Linked DNA regions of Homo sapiens: regions 2 and 3 are each linked to region 1. The links come from fine-mapping of genetic effects on gene expression. A gene starts in region 1. Each other region holds a variant in brackets. All regions are shown on one strand. Distances are between the middles of the regions. Region 1 holds the start of TNRC6A (trinucleotide repeat containing adaptor 6A). Region 2 overlaps TNRC6A (trinucleotide repeat containing adaptor 6A). Region 3 overlaps TNRC6A (trinucleotide repeat containing adaptor 6A).

The links. PIP is the estimated chance that this variant, and not a neighbour inherited with it, causes the effect. A credible set is the group of variants that fine-mapping cannot tell apart.
Region 2: its variant is the best candidate, but not a certain one, in a credible set for the expression of TNRC6A in whole blood (TOPMed, PIP 0.79).
Region 3: its variant is the best candidate, but not a certain one, in a credible set for the expression of TNRC6A in whole blood (TOPMed, PIP 0.58).

Annotation. Positions count from the first base shown.
Region 1 is chr16:24,727,493-24,731,747 of GRCh38, reverse strand. TNRC6A (trinucleotide repeat containing adaptor 6A) reads right to left here and starts at 2,097. Exons shown (of 25, transcript NM_014494.4): 1 at 1,902-2,097; 2 at 1,448-1,495. The coding sequence starts at 1,906. RefSeq lists a silencer at 1,759-2,068.
Region 2 is chr16:24,801,037-24,805,291 of GRCh38, reverse strand. It overlaps TNRC6A (trinucleotide repeat containing adaptor 6A), which reads right to left. Exons shown (of 25, transcript NM_014494.4): 12 at 973-1,115; 13 at 441-587; 14 at 141-278. Among named protein-coding and RNA genes, the nearest start is that of SLC5A11, 43 kb to the left of the region's middle. The variant G/C (reference allele first, on the strand shown) is at 1,555.
Region 3 is chr16:24,808,847-24,813,000 of GRCh38, reverse strand. It overlaps TNRC6A (trinucleotide repeat containing adaptor 6A), which reads right to left. Exons shown (of 25, transcript NM_014494.4): 18 at 3,520-3,651. Among named protein-coding and RNA genes, the nearest start is that of SLC5A11, 35 kb to the left of the region's middle. The variant T/C (reference allele first, on the strand shown) is at 1,810.

The DNA.
Region 1 (4,255 bases):
GTGGCACAGACAATTTTTAATTAAGTACTAGAGCACCTTCATAGGAATTATACTGATATAGTTACCTGATAAAACAAAAATGGAAGGAGAAACAGACCTCTAAGCTCTGTTCTGCTGATATTACACCTTAATGGCTCAACCTGTTTTCTTTAATGGTTTCATATCTTAACATTTCCTTACTAGATTTTGACAAAATTTATGTAAATATACCACAAATAGTCAGTGATGTCAGACTTAATTTCCTTTAAATGATCCCATAATTATTTTGAGTAACAGAGAATCCCTTACTGGGTAAACCAATGATGCCTATCCTTCACCATCTGAACACATTCTTTAACGATCACCTGAACAGATTAGTATCTTATGAAACTCAATAGGCCAGCAATTTGGAACAATTCTACGCGGTGCAAAATATTCAGACGATTTGAAATGTGAGTGTTAAAAACCCCAATGTAAACCTAAAACCCGCAATCATCAAGAGCAAACTACATTAAAACCTGAGATAGGAGAAATTTCATTTTATTTTCAACAAGTGAAAAAAAAGAAAAAAAGAAAGCTATTCACGGATTTGGTTAATTGGCTAAGTTTCCCTGAGTGTCCCAATATGATGCAAAAGAAAAAGGGGAATAAGAAAGGAAAAGACGGTAGGAAAGAAAATGAATGTGAAAAGGAGTTAAATACAGTACAATTCCTTGATGCTTAAGCAATTACAGCTCAATGAAGCTAAATATTTCCATTCCATAAAGACATCGTTTAAAAAAAAAAAAAAATTCTCCCTTCACGGTGATGCAAAAGCAGCAGGGCCCAACAGGAACGATAACCTCTTCTGGAGAAAAGATTTTTAATTATTTTACCAGCTGATAAAAAGAGCACACACCGAACATGGACAGAAATGGAGTTTCGAAGGAAAACAAAACGCAGCTTATGCTTGGTAAAGTTCAAGGACAAAACTGTGTCCAATGCAACAGAATCCGCCTGACTACAATGTATGGGGGGGGGGGGGGGGCGGGGGGGAATGCGAACACATAGTATCTTTTTATAAAAGCAACAATTTGAGCTACAAAGTAATAACGGGGAAGCCAAAACAGTTTGACAGCCCGCCATAAGGGCCGCCTCAATCATGAGTCACACAATGCCTGCAACCATTTACAATAGTAATTAATGCACAAGTCCCCTAATTAAATTCTAAAAGGGTGAGAATGCTTTAACTAAGTTTACAAGAATTGCTTTGCGCTTTTTTTTTTTTTTTTTAAAGAAAGAAACACACGCGTAATTACGCATCTCCCCGCAATCCCTCCAGTATTCCCCCAGGCCGCTTCTCCCGAATGTCTGCTCTCCGGGTGCGGAAGAAAATGTCACGGGGGAACTTCTCAACCCAGAAAAGGCGAATCGGAGTAGAAATATACGATTATCGTGGGGCGGGAGACGGAAAGCTCGCCCATCTTACCTGCTAAGATTTCTTTCTACGTCTTTGGTAGCTTTAGCTTCCAATTCTCTGAAACAAAAAAACAAAAACAAAAACAAAACAAAAACACACACACAAAAACGAGATGCGCGTGAAAACGGAGCTGCTGCGGCAGAGGCTCGCGCCGGGGCCGGATGGGGGAGGGGAGAGGACGGGGGGAGGGGGACTCACAAAGCTGCGGGGCTGCAGCCCGGACTGCGGTCCCGCGGCGCGGGCGAGGCGCAACCCCGGCCTGGCCCCCGCGGCGCGGCGCAGCGAGGCTCCCCCGGGCCGCCCGCTCGGCCTCCGCAGCAACGCAGCCTGCGCCCTCCCGCCGAGGCCCGAAGTCTCGGGGACGCCCGGCGCCGCCGCCTCTGCTGCCGCCGCCGCGGGTTGCGGGCCCTGCGGCAGCGCCCGCGGCTCCTCCCGCCCGGAGGGAGGCCCTTGTTCCGCTCACCTCATGTGTGTAAAGTGCACGAGCAAGTGGGGCGCGGCGAAGGAGGCTCGCGAGCCTCAAGCCCTCCGCAGCGCCGCGGGGAGAGGCCCGAGCCGCTGCACCAGCGCCATTTTCTACACCGACCCGCTGCCGCCGCCGCCGCCGCCGCCGCCGCCGCCGCCGACACCGCCGCCGCCGCAGGCCCCAGACCGGAAGTGAATGCCCCACTCGGCAACCCCTTCCGGGGGCGCCACGGCCACTGGCCCCCAAGATGGAGGCCCTAGCAACTGGACCCGCAGATTGGGCAGGTCCTTGGCAACCGCCCCGGCGTGTCACGCTGCACCCAGCCGGACCTCCCTGGAGGTCACAGCCTCCGAGGCGCCCCGCGGAGTGGCTGGGGGGGCCTGCGGAGTCCCGAGTCCAACCTTTTTCGGTGCGGCCGGCTCCGGTCTGACCGAGGAGGGGAGTCCCTCCCCTCCTCCTCCTTCTTTGCTGCGACACAAGTTTCCTACCCGCCGCCCGGCCCCTCCCCCACTGACACACGCCAAAAAAAAAAAAAAAAAAAATTGCCTAAAACGCAAATTTTACCCCAACTGCAGCCTGATGAGCCCGCGCGGCTTTTGAATTCAGCCACTTCTAATTATTTTTGACCTTGGGCCAGTTATTTAACCTCTCTGCTTCTCTGTTCCTCCTCAGGTAAAGAATGCATACCTGAGGCGGGTTGTGAGGCTTAAAAGCGATTTTTATCCACCGACCTTTGACTCAGCAGTTCCGCCTGCACGGATTTTCTGCTCAGGAAATAATTCTGGGTATCTGCAAATATTTCACCTTCGAGATACTAAGCTGTGGTATTGATGATGGTGAAAAATTGCAAACAGCCAAAATGTCCAGCGCTACTAGATGGCTTCAAAAACAGCTACTGGCATGTATTAGGACACTGTAAAAATGATGTGGAGGAATAATCCCGGCATGGAGGAAATGGTTGCAATAGAATAAATGAAAAAGCAGGTTCCAACGTAGCTCACACAGTAAGAAACATCTTAGTGTAGACACAGTAAGATACATACATGTAGATAGACTAAGATATGTATATATGTAGACACAGATGCATATGTGTACATTAAAAGTATACATACATACCTACATGTAGATACAATAAGACATACATATCTGCAGGTAGATACAACAATACACATACATGTAGATACAGTAAGATACATATTTTCACTTGCGTGTGTTCTTTCCAACCTCTCATCAAGCTTTTTCTTCTAATTTAAAGATAATTCCTCCTCTGTGCTTAAAATCTATAACCTTTACTTTCTCAGAAACCCCACTCTGTGGATCATCCCATTCTCCTTTTTCTAACCTAAGTTCTTCAACTGGCTTTTTTTTTTATTTTTTTATTATATTATCATTTTTTTTAGGCGGAGTCTCGCTCTGTCTCCCAGGCTGGAGTGCAGTGGCGCGATCTCCGTTCACCGCAACCTCCGCCTCCCGAGTTCAAGCAATTCTCCTGCCTTAGCCTCCCAAGTAGCTGGGATTACAGACACGCACCACTGCGCCTAGCTATTTTTGTATTTTTAGTAATGACGGGGTTTCGTCATGTTGGCCAGGCTGGTCTTGAACTCCTGACCTCAGGTGATCGCCCCCCTCGGCCTCCCAAGGTGTTGGGATTACAGGCGTGAGCCACCGCGCCCAGCTTCAACTGGCTTTACAACATGCTTGAATCTCTCCCGTTAAAAACAAACAAAACTTCCCTAGACATGTTGGGTTCCTGTCCTCTCCGATAGGTTAAGCTAGTGAATGAATGCACAGAAAGTCATGAAACATATGCACCAAAACGTTAACTGATTATGACTTTTTTTCATTTTCTTCTTTTAGTGTATCTGTTTTTTTCTTTTTTGCGATGAGCATATAAAAAACACTTTTTTGAAAAAAAAAATCAGGTTTACAAAATATAAAATGTAGTGGGCACCGAATAAATGCTAGTGACTTTCCTTTTCCTGCTATCATCCCTGAGGTTCATTTACCTACACACATATTTGTTTTTCTTTCATAATCCTTTCTACTTAAAATGTTTAAAAGTTACTATGGTGTTTCATTAGGAGTTTAAAAATATGAACATATACGTAATGGCACAATATGCTTTCATACCAGGTTTAGGAATAATTTTTCACAACAACATAAGGCAATGAAAACAGTCATATTTATCAACATTTGCACAGCTGTTAAGATTGGCTGATTTTTTTTTTATTAGACTTTTTTAGGTTTTAATGACTCAGTGATTCTTAATTGGGACAATGTTGCCCCCATCCCTACCCCTGGGGACATTTAGCAATGAACTTTTTGGTTGTCACACTGGATGCTACTGATTG
Region 2 (4,255 bases), 74 kb before region 1:
TAATAGTTAATTCAAAACTAGCTGAATCTCAAAGATGCCAATAAATATGATAATGCTTAGTTAGCCATTTTATTCAAATACAAAATCATGCAAGATCCTTTTTGCAGGTAAACAGGAGAATGTAAGGAAAGCTTATTTACCTGAGGGGAGAGTAATGGAGGAGGCACTTGAGCACGGAGATTAGGCTGAGATGAACTAAGAGGTTGTGCTGGAGGCTGCTGCATGCCCCGGGGTTGTGCTGCTGTGTTTCCAACACCAAACATACTGGGATTGCCATTCTATAAAAACAAACAGCAACAAGTAACAGTGGGATTCTTTAGGGACAAACATCTCATTACCACACTGTACTATGATTTAAACACAGTAACTACATGTAAGAGAGATCTTATTACTAATACAAATCATTCAACTGAGAGCCTAAAATACACATCTGGACTTACCTGTCTAACAGAATTCAAGTTTTGCATACCCAGCCCTGCTATGGAGCCAAGGGCCTGGTTAGGTAGTGCACTATTTGAAGGGGGAAGCTTCATGCTTTGACTGGACATAAACTGCATGTTTTGGGATTCATCTGCTACAATGCCATCCTGATTGGACAGACAGAAAGATGTGCAACACCAGCCAAGCAAACAAGTGGAAGGGAGAAATCATTGCAGGAACAGAAGAGAAGTCACATGACATTCCAGCATCAACAGGAAACAGGTAGAAAACAGAAGAGATCGGATTAGTGTTAATTCTAGAGCACACAAAAAGAGCCAAACATATTTCATGGGATTAAGAAGAAAAATATAAATGCAACCTCTATGATAAATTGAGACATAAAAAGACAGTGAACTTCAAAATCCAGTAATAAGATTTGGTAGTGGATTGTAACACTTTATATTATATAAAAGGTTTTAAAATATTAGTGTGAAAATTACGCTATGAAGTATACTGGTTTATCAAGTCAGAGGTAAAAGTAAAAAACCTTACCTTATCAAAATAAGGATTGCGCTCCATGGAAGACTCTTTGGAAATCTGAGGCCGAGAACCAGGGCCTTTCCCGACCGTTCGATTGTAATCACCAATATTTAGGCTATGTTTATCTATCTCCATTCGTTTGTCTTGTAACATTCCTAATAAAGGCAGGAGACTGTTATCAAACAGGAAGACAACCCAATTGGTTTCAGATAAATTTACAACAAAAGCAAAACACTCACTTTCCAAACTGAAATGACTTCAGCCAAGACAAGGGTATGTGAAAAATACACTTCCATTTCATAAATTTTGCATTCCTCACAAATGAAGTCGCAATTAGGAGATACTGTTATTTTACTGAAATAATTAACTTGAAATAGACTAGTAAACAGAAGGTGGCTGGCTGATAACCTCACTTTTTTTTTCTTTTTTATTTTAGACAGTCTCGCTTTGTGGCCCAGGCTGGAGTGCAGTGGTGGGATCTCGGCTCACTGCAACCTCCACCTCCTAGATTCAAGCAATTCTCATGCCTCAGCCTCTCGAGTAGCTGGGATTACAGGAGTGTACCACTACACCTGACTATTTTTTGTATTATTA[G/C]TAGAGATGTAGGTTTCTCCATGTTGGCCCGGCTGGTCTTGAACTCCTGACCTCAAGTGATCCGGCCGCTTCGGCCTCCCAATGTGCTAGGATTACAGGTATGAGCCACCAGGCCCGGCCTCGTTTTAAAAGGACTCTTAGGTTACATAACTTAAGGCACCTTTAGCCATCTCTAATCTGCTGAGTTTTATAATACAGGTAAGTTTCCATTAACAAGTAATAAAAACAATCAACACCCACTGTGATAAACCACCATTTAATAAATGCCTGGTTTATGTCAGTCGCCATTATAAGTGCTTTTTCTTTTCTTTTTTTTTTTGAGAAGGGGTCTCACTCTGTAGCCCAGGCTAGAGTGCAGTGGTGTGATCTTGGCTCACTGGAACCTCTGCCTCCCGGGTTCAAGCAATCCTCCTGCCTCAGCCTCCTGAGCAGCTGGGATTACAGGCACCCACCACCACACCCAGCTAATTTTTTTATTTTCAGTAGAGACAGGGTTTCCCCATGTTGGCCAGGCTGGTCTCAAACTCCTGACCTCAGGTGATCTGCCTGCCTTGGCCTCCCAAAGTGCTGGATTTACAGACGTGAGCCACCGCACCTGGCCTATGAATGCTTTATGTGTACTAATTTAATGTTTGTAACTCTACTGTTATCGCCCTTTTAGCAGATGAGGAAACTGGACACCAGACAGGGTAACATCTTCCCCTCTCTTAGGCTTTGCTCTGTCTGCTCCTCTCCTCATTCTGACTGCTCTGCAATAAAAAATGATCTTCTCTCCTGGAAACTTTTTTCCTGCAAAATCTTTGCTGGATATAGCCAGCTCCGGCCCAAAAGCTACTGCTCTATTTCAACAAATCTTTTAAAAGTGGACAATGCTCTCTACCACCCCTCCTCACCATCTGTCCATTCTGGTTTCTCTTCCTCTACCCATGCTGAGCTCACCTCGGGTGCTTCTTCAATGCTGGGATACTCTGCGGCTGACAAAGTAGACTCAGGGTCTCAGTCTTTTGACTCTCTCTGTAAACTTGCTTTCCTTAGACTTCATTCACTATCAGGGTATCAGCAGTCACTCCCATTCAAGTGATGCCCAAATATAAACATGTTGCTTAGACTTCACAACTGAGCTCAGTCCCACATTTTTACCTGCCTGCTAAAGCACATCCATTTCGATGTCCCATTGTCACTTTTTTTTGAGACAGTGTCTGGCTCTGCTGCCCAGGCTGGAGCGTAGTGGCACAATCTTGGCTCACTGCAGCCTGTGCCTCCCCGGCCCAAGCAATCCTCTCACCTCAGCTTCCTGAGTAGCTGGGCCCAGAGGTATGTACCACCACCCCCAGCTAATTTTTGCATTTTTTTGTAGAGACAAGGCTTCACCATGTTGCCCAAGCGGTCTCCAACTCCTGACCTCAAGTCATCTGTCCACCTCGGCCTCCTGAAGTGCTGGGATCACAGTCATGAGCCACTGTGCCCGGCCTCATTGTCACTGTTAACACAGGTTTTCATCTCCCTATTCCTCATTCTTGACGTTTTCTCAATCCTCAAATCTCATCCATCATTTCTTTGCAACTGCTGTTCTTTGAGATGTCTGCCACCACCATAATACTTACCTTTACTACTCTCATTCCAGGTAAGTGGAAAAGGAAAACAATTCTTAAAGTAGCTAAGAAGTACTGTTCCAGTCATGAATCTGGTATTTAAAAAATCCACCTTTCACAGTTGTTTAAGAGCCCTCTCTTGAATGTCAATAATCCTTACCACAGCTCCCTCCTCTGTTCTCTCTCCCTGTTAAGATGTCATAATTCACTGATAACAACTAAGCTAGCCATTGTGAACTCTTTCCCCCACTCTCTTCATCTAATCCTGTAACCAATTCCAACCAGTTCTCCTAACTCTCTCTCCAAGCTGTTCCTTCTTGATAATTCACATTATTTTTGCCTATGCAAATACCTTTTGAAAGAGTAGTAGCAGCTGAGCACGGTGGCTAACACTTGTAATCTCAGCGCTTTGGGAGGCCGAGGCAGGCAGGAGTTTGCGACCAGTTTGGCCAACACGGTGAAACCCTGTCTCTACTAAAAATACAAAAAATTAGCTGGGCGTGGAGGCAGGAGAATCGCTTGAACCTGGGAGGCAGAGGTTGCAGTGAGCCGAGATTGCGCCACTGCACTCCAGCCTCAGTGAGACTCCAACTCAAAAAAAAAAAAAAAAAAGAGAGTAGCATGTTACATTTTTTCCACAAACCATTCTCCAACACTTCTGCATCCCTTTAAAAAGAAACTCAAATGTGGCAATCTCCCCTCAGTCCACCAGTCCTCCAGTAAGGTCCATTAGTTACCAATGACTACCCCTGAGCCCCACTGTCAAATCCATTCCCTGACAATCAGTTTTTTCTTTTCAAAACTCTGTACTCACTTGGCGTCTGAAAAATTATTCTACTCTAACTTGTCCCACTTCTGCTTAGGATCACTCCCCTAAATGCCATTATTCCCCAGGACTGTCTTCGGTCCATTATCCTCCAACTCTCTCTAGTCAAACTATTCCTATAGCTTACACTATCATCCACATCTAATTAATTACACTTCATATCACCAGCCCCATCTATTCTGAGCTTCACATCCAGATTTTCGACTGTTTACTGGACCAGGTGGTTTTCAGAGCACCTTCAAACGCAGTATCTATCAAGCCTGCTATTCCTGTATTTCTTAAC
Region 3 (4,154 bases), 81 kb before region 1:
GGGAGGCTGAGGTGGGGGGGTCATCTGAGTCTGGGAGGTCAAGGCTGCAGTGACCTGAGATTGTGCCACTGCACTCCAGCCTCGGCAACTGGGGTCTCAAAAAAAAAAAAAAAAAAAAAAAAAGCCCAAGAGGTACTATTAATTCCATTTGGCAGATGAGGGACCTCAAGTTCAGAAAGGTTAAGTTACTTGCCAAGTAGCTAATTGCACTCACGTGTCACTTAACAGGGCTACACTTGGAGAAACTAGGCAATTTCATTTTTGTGTGAACATCAGAGTGCCCTTACACAAACCTAGATGGTAGAGCCCACTACACAGCAGAGCCCTATGGCCTAGCCTACTGCTCCTAGGCTACAAACCTACAGTGTGTTACTGTACTGAGTAATGTAGGCAACTGTAACAGAAGGGTGTATCTAAACATAGCTAAACAGGAAAGGTACAATAAAACATGGTATTATAAGCTCAATGGACCCACTACTGGATATATGGCCCATTGTTTACTGAAACATTGCCATTAAGTGGTGCATGACTGGAATAACAGAGTCAATTAGTAGCAGAGCTAGGTCTCGAACCTAGGATTCATATTTATTTTGCCATTTCCCCATTGTCTCAACTCCCTGTTCTCTCTCTTCAGGTCAGAAAAATTCCGGGCTGGGCCTGGTGGCTAACGCCTATAATCTCAGCACTTTGGCAGGCTGAGGCAGGCAGATCACCTGAGTTCAGGAGAACGAGACCAGCCTGGCCAACATGGTGAAACCCTGTCTCTACTAAAATTACAAAAATTAGCCGGGTGTGGTGACACACACCTGTAATCCCAGCTATACTCAGGAGGCTGAGGCACGAGAACCACTTGAATCCCAGAGACGAGGGTTGCAGTGAGCAGAGATTTGCATCACTGCACTCCAGCCTGGGTGACCGAGTGAGACTCTGTCTCAAAAAAAAAAAAAAAAAAAAAAAAAAAAAAAAAAAAAAAAAAAAAAATCCCAAAGTGACATTCCCCTGAACGGCAAACGAACTTAGAATCAAAGGTCTGTTTGGTTTATGGTCTAGCGGTTCCTTCTATTACACGACAATTTTAATTTCTGAAAATCATTAGTCCAATGTGTACAATCTAGAAATCTGACCCTAAAGTTTAGTTAATAAACTTTCAAAGTAAAATTCAATAGAAAAAAAAGAATGTCACAAAAATATCATTTTACTAGCAATCATACATTTGAGGCTGCTTAAGCTAGAATCACCAAGCCCTGTCAATTCCACTTCCTCCACAGCTCCTGGATAATGACTATACTAGATCTACTCCAATTCTCCACACTGCACCCAGAGGCATCATTCGAAAGTGCAAATCTGATCATGTCATCTCCTGGCTTAGTACTCTCCAACATACAAAAGGCAATGTTCAAATTCTTCAAGTTTATAAGGCTCTTAAAATTCTAGCCCCGCTCCATCTCTCATCGTTTCCCCTCCCTTCACCTCTGCCTGCCTGACTTCTGTTTATCTTTCATATCTCAGCTTCAGAGATCACAGGCCTCCTAGAAGCCTTGCCCAACTGCCTCCAACCAAGGCTAAAATAAAAAATCTCCTTCTATACATGTCACCAAATCCGTCTGGGTGCTGAGATGAAGGGATTTTATAAACTGCCTGGAAGTCACAGAATCTTAGGCCCATAGAGTATCTGAGACATCCAGTTTAACCCTTCTGTAATGCAGAACTTCCTAGTCAAATGTCCTTGCCTCCACTCCCCTTAACAAATCAGACTTTTCTTACTGTAGGTGTGCAGTGTGCAGCTAAGGGTTAGCATGGCAGACTGGA[T/C]TGCACATTCCAAAGTGTGCCAGGACCGTCGCCTGTTCAGCTCCTGTGCTCCTCCAAGCCCATGGACTACTCTGCCAGCTAAGAGTGCCTCTGCATGCCTTACACCTAGGCCACTCTAATGATATGATTTACGGCGAACACCTATTCTTTTCTGCCTGCGACTCGGGTCCGTCCTGTATTTGTCTGACCTCTGAGGGGTCTGTCTGGAGAGGGCTGGAGACTGACTAGCTGATCAGTTATGCAAGTGTTTCAGGCTTACACTGCTGAATGAAAGAATGAGTTAAGTGAGTTACCAAGCTTTTCTGCTTTTAATTTTTGAAACTCTCTTGCAGTGTACTCCCTCTCATGTCCACTGACCTTTCTCTCTCTTACCTAGACTACTTTAAGTCTTAACTGCCTCTAGGCACCCATCATTTTCATGTTTAAAATCATTCTTGGCACAAGTTTTCCATGATTTGCACCACACCTACTATTCCATCTTCATCTACCTCTTTTCTGTCATTTGCACCTTCACCCCCAGATATGCCGAGATACAGAATTCACCAGGCAGTCCTCTTTGAACCCTGCATGCACTATTCTTTCTTGGTTGCTCTTCCTGTTTGTGTGGTAAACTTACTCTTCTCAAGGTAAGTCTTTTTCACCTTTCTAGACCCACCACACCTGCAGTTATTCCTGACTCAATGCTCCTAAGGAACTTGGTATTATTAAACTATTATAAATATTAACTTTGATATTACCTATTATATTGTACTAAAGCTGCTGACATACTTTCGTTCACAATGAACAATTCCAGGGCAAGTAATTTTACGTATATACATACATACATACATTCAACTGTAAGCATGTATGTACATTGTGTCTATGTATTCCAGGTGCTAACATAGCCTTGGAAAGCAGAAGATACTCGATTAATATTTGCTGGGTGAATGGATAATACTAAATAAGATGAAAACGGCATTTCTAAAAAAAATTTAATTGCTGAAAAGACAATACTGTTAAATCCATATGACTTACACATAGCAATAAGCTATATAAAGAAATGTGTCCATATATAAGGAATTGATAGAAATAAAATTATGGGCCAGGTGCAGTAGTTCACACCTGTAATCGCAGCACTTTGGGAGACCAAGGCAGATGGATCACCTGAGGTCAGGAGTTTGAGACCAGCCTGGCCAGCATGATGAAACCCTGTCTCTACTAAAAATACAAAAATTAGCCGGGCATGGTGGCTCAGGCCTGTAATCCCAGCTACTCAGGAGGCTGAGGTAGGAGAACTGCTTGAACCCGGGAGCAGAGTTTTCAGTGAGCTGAGATCATGCCAATGCATTCCAGCCTGGGTGACGGAATGGGACCCTGGTAGAAGTTTTAAATGTCCTAAGAACATATCAAATTAAATCCAGTAAATGTTAATAAGTGTAATAATATAAGAATAAAATCACTTAGAAAAATGTAAAAAGCCAAAGAGAAAATAATTTTTAAACATGTATCATCTGATCTCTCCTTTATAAAACAGAGTAGAGGTAAATTCTGCTTTTCATCTGAAAGTCTCTTATTGTAACTAAGACTTAATAACAACTTTTTTTAAATGAGGAAAAGTTCTAAGATAATTTGGCTTTGAAAACACATTTAAAATAAAATAAAGGCCTAAATCTAGTATTCTGCAGGTGTGTGTGTTTTTTTTTTTTTTTTGGTAAGATGTATCTTTTGTACCATGTTTGCTGGAGTTTTGATCCAAAGATGTGTTCACAGAAATGCTGTCCACTGTCGTCCACTTCCTTAGTCTTGACTGTGGCTCTTTAATACTGTTCATATCCATATTTACATTCAAGTTTGAGTTCAAGCCTGAAAAATTAAAAAACAAAACAAAACCTTAGAAAATACAGCACATTTTCTTTCTAGTAGCACAACTTCTATTTCCTAGAAAAACATGTAACTAATGTTTTCAAACCACATAACTGTTAATACTATAATTTAGTTATACGTAGAAAATATTTCTCCATAAAATTTTGATGATTTATTTAAAACTCCTTGGCAAAATAAGAGGGAGAAAAGTTTTAAGGAAGCCAGATGTATAAGTTTACTTGGAATAAAATGTATCTGTTTAGCTATTTCCCAAGTGTACCTATGCATGAAGATCTGTGGTCACTTTCAGTTGCTATCTTTTGCTTGCAAATTCTAAAGTAAAAATGTCCTGTACTAGCAATTACACCTAGGCTGGGGACAGATATATCTTAAGGCACAATTTACTTGACCTTTGCTGATGAGGCCCCTCAGACTTGGATATTCTCTTGGAACAAGAATGGAAATTTCAACCTTAGATACAGTGGTCAGAAAACTATTAAGCT